3 linked regions of the Homo sapiens genome follow. The protein of the gene in region 3 purifies or fractionates together with the protein of the main gene of each other region. This does not show direct contact. Each region holds a gene or a part of one and is shown on either strand. Other genes may lie near its edges. The genes, in order: USP48, ERCC6L and FCHO1.

Region 1 (3,650 bases), on a different chromosome or scaffold from region 3:
GCATGAACCATGGTGCCAGGCCTTGAATAGCTTTTACCAGCCTGCAAAACCTTTGCACCCCAAGGAGTAATATTTTATCTTTATTTTACAGATGGTATATTGACTTGCTGAAAGCCACAATTGGTAGTAAGGATACAAATATTCAGAGTCTGATTAGAAGACAGAAGCTACACAATAATTTGAACAGAAAAGGTTTTTTTTTATTGTTTGTTTGTTTTTTGAGACAAGATCTCACTTTTTCGCCCAGGCTGGTGCGAGCACAGCTCACTGTAGCCTCAACCTCCCAGGCTCAAGCAATCCTCCTGCCAGAGCCCCCCCGAGTAGTTGGAACTACAGGCATGCACCACCACCTCTTGCTAATTTTTGTGTTTTTTTTGGAGACAGCATTTTACCATGTTGCCCAGGCTGGTCTCAAACTCCTGGGTTCAATCGATCCACCTTCCTTGGTCTCCCAGAGTGCTGGGATTACAGGCATGAGCCACAGCACCTGGCCTTGAATAGCTTTTACTGGCCTGCAATGCTTTTGCAGGCCAAGGAGTAATATTTTATCTTTATTTTGAAGATGATATATTGACTTGCTGAAAGCCACAGTTGGTAGTAAGGAGATAAATATAGTCCAGTTAGAAGACAGAAGCTACAGAATAATTTGAAAAGGGAAAGTTGAGAATTAATAACAGAATTAATTAGAGAAATGAGGAATTGATTAATAAGAGTTAAAGATTAAAGAGGATTTTAAAGAATACAAGGACAGCAGATACAGGGAACAACCTGTATCCCTGGGGCTGAAAGAGAACATCCAACGGATAGTCTGTCACCCCCATGGCCCAGGCTTGAGATCCAGACCTCTTTGGACACTGCTGGGATGCACTGGGTGGCTGAAAAGGTGCTGAGATGCCTCCCTGGGAATCCCTACTAGAAACTGTCCATGAGAAGGTGCTGGGCCCTGGAACCCCCTACAGAGTCACCTGAGAGAGTGTCCGGGAGGCCATTCACAGGGTGGTCATTCGAGAGGAAATGCCTCACTGGAGGCACTGTACTGTGAAGCTATCAGAAGAGGTGCTGGGTAAGCTGCTGACTACTGTTAGGGGCAGGAACCTGGAGCCCTGGAGGAAGCTGATCTGCAGCAGGCTGGTGACAGAGGCACAACCAAACCCTGCAGTGCCCTTCACTGAGAAGCCTTACCTTCTTGATAACTGGCAAAGGAGAAGTATTTGCAGAGCCCATCTCTCATCACTGAGCAGGCAAAGAAGGGTAGATTTGGAGCTGAGAAGCAATAAGTTAATAACTTAAAGAAGATAAGACTTCTGTCTTCTGGGCTCTCAATATCCATGCTTTCTGCTTCCATTCCCTGCACTAGCTCATTAAAACTTTCAACTCTAAAATTCTACGGTTTTGTATTCTTCACTTAAGTGTGAATTGCTGTGCTTGAGATCCCAAGTCCACATTAACTGGACTTTAAAAAATCATGACTAGACACTGTAGTCATGATTGCTGTTGTTGCTTTAATACAGGTAGGCTCTTGCCTTTGGGGAGTGTATATGGACAGTCCTGGCTGCCTCATGACTTCCACAAAACATGGTTGCTAATTCTATTTCTTTTTTTTTTTCCTCCCAGATGGAGTCTCACTCTGTTGCCCAGGCTGGAGTGCAGTGGCACAATCTTGGCTAACTACAACCTCCGCCTGTCGGGTTCAAGTGATTCTCCTGCCTCAGCCTCCCGAGTAGCTGGGATTACAGGCGTGTACTACCATGCCCCACTAATTTTTGTATTTTTAATAGAGACGGGGTTTCGCCATGTTGGCCAGGCTGGTCTGGAACTCCCGACCTTGTGATCCGCCAGCCATGGCCTCCCAAAGTGCTGGGATTACAGGCGTGAACCACTGCTTCCAGCCTTGAGCCACTGCGCCAGCCCTGTCTTTTAAAGTTTTTTTTTTTTTTTTTTTTTTTTTAAAGAGTCTCGCTCTGTCATCCAGGCTGGAGTGCAGTGGCATGATCTCTGCTCACCACAACCTCCACCTCCTGGGTTCAAGCTATCCTTGAACCCCAGCCTCCCAAGTAGCAGGGATTACAGGTGCTCGCCACCACACCCAGCTACTTTTTGTATTTTTAGTAGAGACAGGGTTTTACCATGTTGGCCAGGCTGGTCTTGAACTCCTGACCTCAGATTATTCGCCCGCCTCTGCCTCCCAAAGTGCGGGGATTACGAGTGTGAGCCACCGTGCCCAGCCTTGTTTTTTGTTTTTGAGAGTCTCACTTTGTTGGCGATCTCACCTCACTGCAGCCTCTTCCTCCCGCGCTCAATAGATGCTCGTGTCTCAGCCTCCCAAGTAGCTGGGATTACATGTGTGCACCACCACACCCGGCTAATATTTGTATTTTTTTTAGTGGAGACGGGGTTTCTCCATATTGGCCAGGCTTGTCTCAAGCTTCTGATCTCAAGTGATCTGCCTGCTTTGGCCTCCCAAAGTGCTGGGGTTACAGGCATGAGCCACCGTGCTCAGCCTATTTCTTTTAAAGTTTTAAAATGATAATAAAGTATTAATCTAGTTTGGATGTAGAGATGTTTATGTTCTCATGTGAAGAGGAAGTACCATTTTTTGGAAAGAAAAGTAGCACCTTAAAAAACCCCAAATCTATATTTTTGTTTTAATAGATTATGAGCCTCAAACAATTTGTGAGCATCTCCAGTACTTGTTTGCCTTGTTGCAAAACAGTAATAGGCGATACATTGATCCATCAGGATTTGTTAAAGCCTTGGGCCTGGACACTGGACAACAGCAGGTAAGAACTGAATTTTTTTTTTTTTTTAAATATTCAGAGGTACCCAAACATCCTAAGCATGTTTATAAAGGGAGATGAAGTAGAATGCTTTTTAAAAATTAAATTTTTTCTATTTTGAATGAAAACCTTTATTTACTGTCCAATAGTTTACACATTATACTTGATTCCATTTATGGAAATTCATATGGGGGCACAAACTGATTGAACATAGCTGTAGCCCCTGTTTGAAAATGCTAAGTTGAAAGTATAGGTAGTTTCTGGAATGTTGAATGTATTACTATTTGTAGTAGAAGTTGAAAAGCAAGATATGATTTTTCTTTTCATTAACCTAAACTTGTAGGATGCTCAAGAATTTTCAAAGCTCTTTATGTCTCTATTGGAAGATACTTTGTCTAAACAAAAGAATCCAGATGTGCGCAATATTGTTCAACAGCAGTTCTGTGGAGAATATGCCTATGTAACTGTGTAAGTCTGTTTCAACTTTTTCATGGTACATTTTATTCTAAGACAGTTGCTCATATGTTAACTATTTTTCAGTGCAGTTCCAGGTTGTAGCTTTAGTGGTTTATCATGGGACCTGAAATATTTATAGTAATACATTTCCATGGGAACATATAAACAAGTGAGTTGGTAATTGCAGTTGCACCCATCCAGGTGTTAGGAACGGTGTCTGGGTGAGCTCTTGCAGTCTGCTCTTGCTTTATGGCTGTGTGGTGTGAGCTAAAGAGTAAGATTGGAACTGGCTAGAATACTAAAAGTAAATGTAAAATGCCTGTTAAAAAAATGTGCATGAGTACAATATACAACATTTGGGTGATGGTTACATTAAAACCTAGACTTCACCACAGTGCGATATATTCATGTAACAAA
Region 2 (3,650 bases), on a different chromosome or scaffold from region 3:
ACATGTATAAATTCATACATGTAGTAGTTTGTTCTTTTCTATTATTGAGTCCTTTGTATGAATATATCACAGATTGGTGGGTTTTTTTGTTTGTTTGTTTGTTTTGAGTCAGAGTCTTGCTTTTTCATCCAGGCTGGAGTGCAGTGGCTTGATCTTGGCTCACTGCAACCTCCATCTCCTGAGTTCAAGCGATTTTCCTGCCTCAGCCTCCTAAGTAGCTAGGATTACAGGAACCCGTCACCACACCTGGCTAATTTTTGTATTTTTAGTAGAGATGGTGTTCCACCATGATGGCAGGGCTAATCTCGAACTCCTGACCTCAAGTGATCTGCCCACCTCGGCCTCCCAAAGTGCTAGGATTACAGGTGTGAGCCACCGTGCCTGGCCTAAACTTTTGTTTTGTTTTTTTTTTTTTTTTTGAGATGGAGTCTCACTCTGTCATCCAGGCTGGAGTGCTGTGGCATGATCTCGGCTCACTGCAACTTCCGCCTCCCTGGTTCACATGATTCTCCTGCCTTTGCCTCCAGAGTAGATGGGATTACAGGTGCCTGCCACCATGCCTGGCTAATTTTTGTATTTTTAGTAGAGATGGGTTTCACCATGTTGGCCAGGCTGGTCTCAAACTCCTGACTTCAGGTGATCCAACCGCCTCGGCCTCCCAAAGTGCTGGGGTTGTTTCCAGTTTTTGGCTATTAAGAGTAAAGCAACATTGTTTGTTTTTTTGACTCTTAAATGCCTGTCTTATAAATGGCGCTAAGCAGGGAAAAGCTAATTATTAAATATTGTTTGACTGAAATGTGAACCACATTTTTCCCTAATTTATGTCAGAAATCACTATTTAATAATATTGTTTGTGTTTATATGTGATTTTAAAATGATCCCCACCTTAATTAAAATGACCATCCCTGAAAGTGAAGCCAAAAGGAAGGAATCCTCCTAGCCTACTCTGCCATGACTTGGGCTTTAAATGGACCTGTTTTCAATACTGGCATTCAGGTCACCTGCAATTTTTATGTTATCCAAATGTTTTATGTTTTATTGATTTTGATGGAGAATCAAAAGACATCTGTTGTGTCTAATGCATCTACATGCATCTTGACAAGGGGACTGGACATAGAGACATGTCAGGGAGCAGATACTCCAGGAGCTGGATCAGTATAGGGAAACTGTTAACGGACAGGTCTTTGTTCTCAGAGCTCCCAAGATAGTGGTGGGCCGCTCCCAAGATGGCAGCAAGCCTTTTGTTCTCTGACCTGGGGTTCTTGGCCTCACGGATTCCAAGGAATGGAACCTTGGGCCACATGGTGAGTGTTATAGCTCTATTAGAAGCCGTGGGTCATGGAAGAGAACCGTGGAACCCAGCAACTAGTGTTCAGCTGGATTAGGACGAACCCGGGCACTTAGCCATGCAGGAACAATGGCGAGCCTTTAGCCCGATTGGGAGCGGCAATGGGCGCCTTGCTATATCAGAAACGCAGCGGACACCCTGCCATATCTGGAGGGGTGGAAGTCAGCGATGGGTCTGCAACGGTGGCAAACAGCAGTGGTGGACGGTGAGCGAAAGCTCAGCTCGAGCCGTAACAAACACAGACCAGAAGAGTGTGCAGTTGCAAGATTTAATAGAGTGAAAACAGAGCTCCCATACAATGGGAGGGACCCAGACGAGGTTGCCCCTCCCGGCTCGAATGCCTGGATTTATATCCCGATCATTTTCCCTCCCCCTGTGCTCTCGGGCGATATATGATTTGACTATTTCTTTACCTCCTGCTTTTAGCCTAATTTGTATTTCAGTGAGCCCTCTTTACTACCTGATTGGTTGGGTGTGAGCTGAGTTATAAGCCCTGTATTTAAAGGTAGGTGTAGTCACCTTCCCCAGCTAGGCTTAGGAATTCTTAGTCAGCCTAGGAAATCCAGCAAGTCCTGTCTCTCAAAACTGGGTTCTTGTTGAGAGGACAGCAATAACCCCACTCACATGCGCCGAGATTAGCAGGTCTAGGCTCCTCCACCCCTATATGGGCCTAGTGGCTGGTGGCCAGATTACAAAACAAAGAGCATTTCTGATTGTTTTGCATGTGAAGAAAACAAAGTTTTATTGAGTTAGGGTCTTTGCATTCAGTTCTCTGTCTCTTCACATTCTTTTTTTTTTGAGACAGGGTCTGGCTCTGTAGCCCAGGCTGGAGTGCAGTGGTGACACGATCATAGCTCAATGCAACCCCTGCCTCCCAGGCTCAAGCCATCCCTCCCACCTTAGCCTCCCAGTAGCTGGGTCTAGGCGCATGCCACCAAACCCGGCTAATTTTTTTTCTATTTTTTGTAGAGACCAGGGCTTCACTATGTTGCCCAGGCTAGTCTCAAACTCCTGGGCTCAAGCAATCTGCCCGCCTTGGCCTCCCAAAGTACTGGGATTAGAGGCTCAAGCCACCGCTCCCAGCTGTCTCTTCACATTCTAAAATAACTTTGTAGGGAATGTTCTAAAGGGCCCTCCATAGCAAGGAAAATCAAGTGTGTGTCTTCTGCAACTTAAGCTTGTGTGCCTTTTCAGCTGCTCATTTGTAAACACTGTGTGTTTAACTTAGCTTAGCTCTTTGGGGCATAGGTCTAATAGTATGGCTTATGGGTTTCTCCAGATAGAAAAACTTTTCAGCATCTGAACTGGCAGACCCTCTGTGGAGAAGAAAGGTTTCTCAAGGTATCAGCCAGTTCCAAAGGGAGGTGGATTAGATGTTGAGAGGTTAATTGGCTATGGTCAAGGAAAATGTTTGCATCTGAGGAAATAGCTTTGGGGCAGAGATGATTTTATTATTATTATTATTATTTTTTTTGAGATGGGGTCTCGCTGTGGTGCACGGTTGGAGTGTAGTGGTGCGATCTTGGCTCACTGCAACCCCCGCCTTTCACGTGATTCTCATGCCTCAGCCTCCCGAGTAGCTGGGATTACAGGCACCCACCACCATGCCCGGCTAATTTTTTTGTATTTTTAGTAGAGACGGGGTTTCACCATGTTGGCCAGGCTGGTCCTGAACTCCTGACTTCAGGTGATTCAACCGCCTCAGCCTCCCAAAGTGCTGGGATTACAGGCATGAGCCACCATGCCCAGCCACAGAGATGATTTTATATGGCCACTTGGGCAGGGCTTCTTATAGAGAGACCTTTAGGTGGGGTTATGACCCAGGGGGTTAGCAACTGGGCAGTTTTGCCAGCGAAAGTGTAGCTTTCCAGGTAACAGGACTTTGTAGCCCAAGTTTAATTGTTGTATCACCTTCCTCCAGGAGTTGTTTGTATATAATATTTCTTTTTTTTTTTATTTTTGAAACGGGTCTTGCTCTGTCACCCAGGCTGTAGTGCAGTGGTGCGATCATGGCTCACTGCAGCCTAGACCTCCCATGCTGAAGCGAACTTCTTGCCTCAGCCTCCTGAATAGCTGGGACTGACTACAGGTGTGTGCCACTGATATGGTTTGGCTGTGACCCCACCCATAATCTCATCTTGAATTGTAATCCAGATTGTAATCCTCAATCTCATCTTGAATTGTAATCCAGACTGTAATCCTCACGTGTTTGGGGAGACACCTTGTGGGAGGTGATTAGATGTCCTTTAAAATAATCCTTAAAGAGAAACATGCTCTAGTCATATAATTTCAGGTAAAACCA
Region 3 (3,443 bases):
CTGCCTGGTACTAGTGGGGGTTTTGCCCTGTAGTTGGCACTCTTCTAAGTGTGTGACCTCCCACAGATATCCAGTGAGGTGAGTTGCAGATGAGCTGAGGCTCAAGTCCCGTGCTTAAAGTCACACAGCCAGTGGCCGCCAAGCAGGCTCCTCACTCAGGCTTCCTATCTCCACTTCCTGGGTTCCAAGAACTTTGTCCTGCTCATAGCTCTCTCTCTGCTACATGGTATACAGTAGATACTCAATTAATATTTGTAGGTTGACTAATTGCTTCCTCATTGAACTAACAACCTTCCATCACTTTGCTTGGGATGCCCATTCCTATCTTGCAAACTCCTACTCATACCTCAAAACCTCATTTATAATGCCCCCTCCTTAGAAAGTCTTCCTGACTGCTTGGGAAGACTCCTGACACCCCTTTCTGGGCTTCTGTAGTCCTCCTCCCTCCCTATAGCCCACCTCTGAGCCCATGGGGCTGGGGTATCTGTGTTGTTCTTTCTCTCCCAGAATGGCCCTGTACCGGTTGAGCGCAGTGCAGGGAGGGAGGTACATTAGGTCTCTCGTATCCATCCACCTTCTCTTCCTCCCCTCTCTGGCAACGCAAAGGATACTTCCTGGAGCAGGAAAAGGTTTCCTTTTTTATTTTATTAGAAAATAAAGTGTTTATTCAAAGAACATTAAAAGGCCGGGACCTGTGTGGGGTTGGCATGAGGGGGAGGAGCGAATCTCGGGCTCAGCCAGGCTGGGCATGGGGCTCCTCTCCGTGGAGTATGGGCCTCAGGGAGGCTGGGGTGGGAGGCCCCAGGGTCCGGCAGGAGGGCAGGGGGTGGTCAGCCAGCACCAGGGCGCAGTGTAGAGCTGGGGCAGCAGCATTTGCGGGTTCAGCAGCTCACCAGGTACATCCCTGTGGGGGTGCAGCTGTGAGGGGGAGGGGTGGGGAGGAGGGGTACGGGAGGGGTTCCCCGGCTCTGACCCTGGGATGCTTCAATCATCCTTGTCCTCTTCAAAACACCCCTGTAACTCATAGTCCCTGTTGCCACTGGGCCCCAGGAGCCCCTTGTTGGGGGCAGGAGAACAGGGTGGGGCTGGAGGAGGGGGTGGCAGGGGGGACTTCGGGCTCCCTGGCTGGGGTCCTTCCAAGGACGTCCTCCAAGGGCCAGCCCCAGATACACAGGGCCCTGCCTCCTTGCCCACCTGTGCCCCCCATCTGGGGTCTCCTGGCCCCAACACCCACCTATCTTTCCCAAGGATCCCCACACCCCAATCCCTCCCCACACCCCGGGGCTTGCCCCTGTAAGATCTCGGCTCCTGAGGTCACCCAGCAGCAGGGTTGGGGAGTACCTGTGGCAAACCTCCTCTTCACCAGCGACATGCGGTAACCGCTGCCCACCAGTTCCAAGTCCACGCCCGACAGAGTGGTCCCCTCGCTGGTGAACTGTGCAGCCACGGGGCTGGGTGTGCTGGGCCCTGAGAGCGGCTCCCAGCTGGCAGAGAGGCGGCCAGAACCTGGGGAGACCTGCAGTCAGCTGCGCCCTGGCACCAGCCCCCGTCCCAGCTGTGAACCAGGCTCATCTTTGGCCCACACCTGAAGCCCTCTGTTCTGTGGCCTTTATGTGCCCCATCAGACCTCCCTTTGATCCCCTGCATCTGTCTCTCCTGGCATCACTGGGCTTTGTATGGCTAGCAAGGGAGTCCTGCCTCAGGGCCTTTGCACCTGCTGTGTCTGGCCATCTGGCCCTGGGACGCCCTCTCCTTCAGCTTTTTTTTTTTTTTTTTAGAGACAGGGTCTGGCTCTGTTGCCCAGGCTGGAGTATAGTGGTGCAATCATAGGTCACTGCAGCCTCTAACTCCTGGGCTCAAGTGATCCTCCCACCTGGGCCTCCCAAAGCACTGGGATTACAGACCTATGCCACTGTCCTTGGCCCTCCTCCAGCTTTTTTTTTTTTTTTTTTTTTTTTTTTTTTGAGACAGAGTCTCGCTCTGTCACCCTGGCTGGAGTGCAGTGGCACGATCTCGGCTCACTACAACCTTCACCTACTGGGTTCAAGCGATTCTCCTGCCTCAGCCTCCCAAGTAGCTGGGATCACAGGTGCGTGCCACCACACGCGGCTAATTTTTATATTTTTAGTAGAGACAGGGTTTCACCATGCTGGCCAGGTTGGTCTTGAACTCCTGACCTCAAGTGATCTACCCACCTCGGCCTCCCAAAGTGCTGGGATTACAGGCGTGAGCCACCACACCTGGCCTTTTTTGTTTGTTTGTTTGTTTTTGAGTCAGAGTCTGGCTCTATTGCCCAGGCTAGAGTGCAGTGGTACGATCACGGGTCACTGCAGCCTCCAACTGCTGGACTCAAGTGATCCTGCATTCTGGGCCTCCCAAAGCACTGGGATTACAGACCTATGCCACTCAGCCCGGCCCTCCTCCAGCTTTTAAAGACTTCCTCAATGCCCATACTTGCCCGCCCTCAGTATGTCCCCAATTCTTCCCCAACATAAATAAGTGCCTCCCACCTGACCCCAGTCCCTCCCACCCAGCCCTCATACACAACCACAGCTCACCGCCTGCCTCGGACACATCTGGAAGCCTCCAAGTGAGCCGCTTCTCCTCCAGGTTCCTGGCAGAGAAAGAATCTTAATCAGGGCTTCCCCAGAGAGGATGCTGAGAGCCCAGGGTCCTGCCTCAGCTGCCTCCTGGCTGTGTGACCCCAACAAACCTTCTCCCCCACTTCACCTCAATTTCCTCATCTGTGAAATGAGGGTGAGATATGGAACAGCCGTGGAGCCACACAGCCTTGCAACACTTCTGTGTGTGTGTGTGTGTGTGTGTTTGTTTTGTGTTTTTTTGTGTGTTTTTTTGAGATGGTGTCTCCCTCTGTCGCCCCGGCTGGTGTGCATTGGTGCGATCTCTGCTCACTGCAGCCTATGCCTCCTGGGTTCAAGCGATTCTCCTCCCTCAGCCTCCTGAGTAGCTGGGATTACAGGCGCCCGCCACCACGCCTGGCTAATTTTTGTAATTTAGTAGAGACGGGGTTTCACCATATTGGCCAGGCTGGTCTCAAACTGCTGACCTCAGGTGATCCACCTGCCTTGGCCTTCCAAAGTGTTGGGATTACAGGCATAAGCCACCATGCCCGGCTTCCTTGCAGCACTTTTAGATGACGCATTCTGTCCTATAAGTCTGGCTTCTTCACAACAGACTTTTTTTTTTTTAAATTTTTGTTTTTTAAGAGACAGTTGTCACCCAGGGTAACTCCTTGAAGCCTCAACTCCTGGGCTCAAGTGATCCTTCTGTCTCAGCCTCCCGAGTAGCTGGGACTACAAGAGCACACTACCACTACTATTTTTTTTTTTTTTTGAGACGGAGTCTCACTCTGTTGCCCAGGCTGGAGTGCAGTGGCATGATCTCAGCTCACTGCAACCTCCACCTCCCGGGTTCACGCCATT

Evidence for each region.
Region 1: the proteins of FCHO1 (region 3) and USP48 purify together in Homo sapiens (affinity purification with mass spectrometry; one large-scale study listed by BioGRID and IntAct). This does not show direct contact.
Region 2: the proteins of FCHO1 (region 3) and ERCC6L purify together in Homo sapiens (affinity purification with mass spectrometry; one large-scale study listed by BioGRID and IntAct). This does not show direct contact.

The regions. Positions count from the first base shown.
Region 1 is NC_000001.11:21,752,122-21,755,771, reverse strand, and holds part of USP48 (ubiquitin carboxyl-terminal hydrolase 48), read left to right. Parts: intron 1-2,652; coding exon 2,653-2,780; intron 2,781-3,120; coding exon 3,121-3,245; intron 3,246-3,650.
Region 2 is NC_000023.11:72,211,442-72,215,091, reverse strand, and holds part of ERCC6L (DNA excision repair protein ERCC-6-like), read left to right. Parts: intron 1-3,650. UniProt on the Homo sapiens protein: DNA helicase that acts as a tension sensor that associates with catenated DNA which is stretched under tension until it is resolved during anaphase. Functions as ATP-dependent DNA translocase. Can promote Holliday junction branch migration (in vitro).
Region 3 is NC_000019.10:17,785,745-17,789,187, reverse strand, and holds the end of FCHO1 (F-BAR domain only protein 1), read right to left. Parts: intron 2,615-3,443; coding exon 2,559-2,614; intron 1,507-2,558; coding exon 1,342-1,506; intron 919-1,341; coding exon of another isoform or gene 905-918; coding exon 882-904; coding exon of another isoform or gene 778-881; 3' UTR 627-777; downstream 1-626. UniProt on the Homo sapiens protein: Functions in an early step of clathrin-mediated endocytosis. Has both a membrane binding/bending activity and the ability to recruit proteins essential to the formation of functional clathrin-coated pits.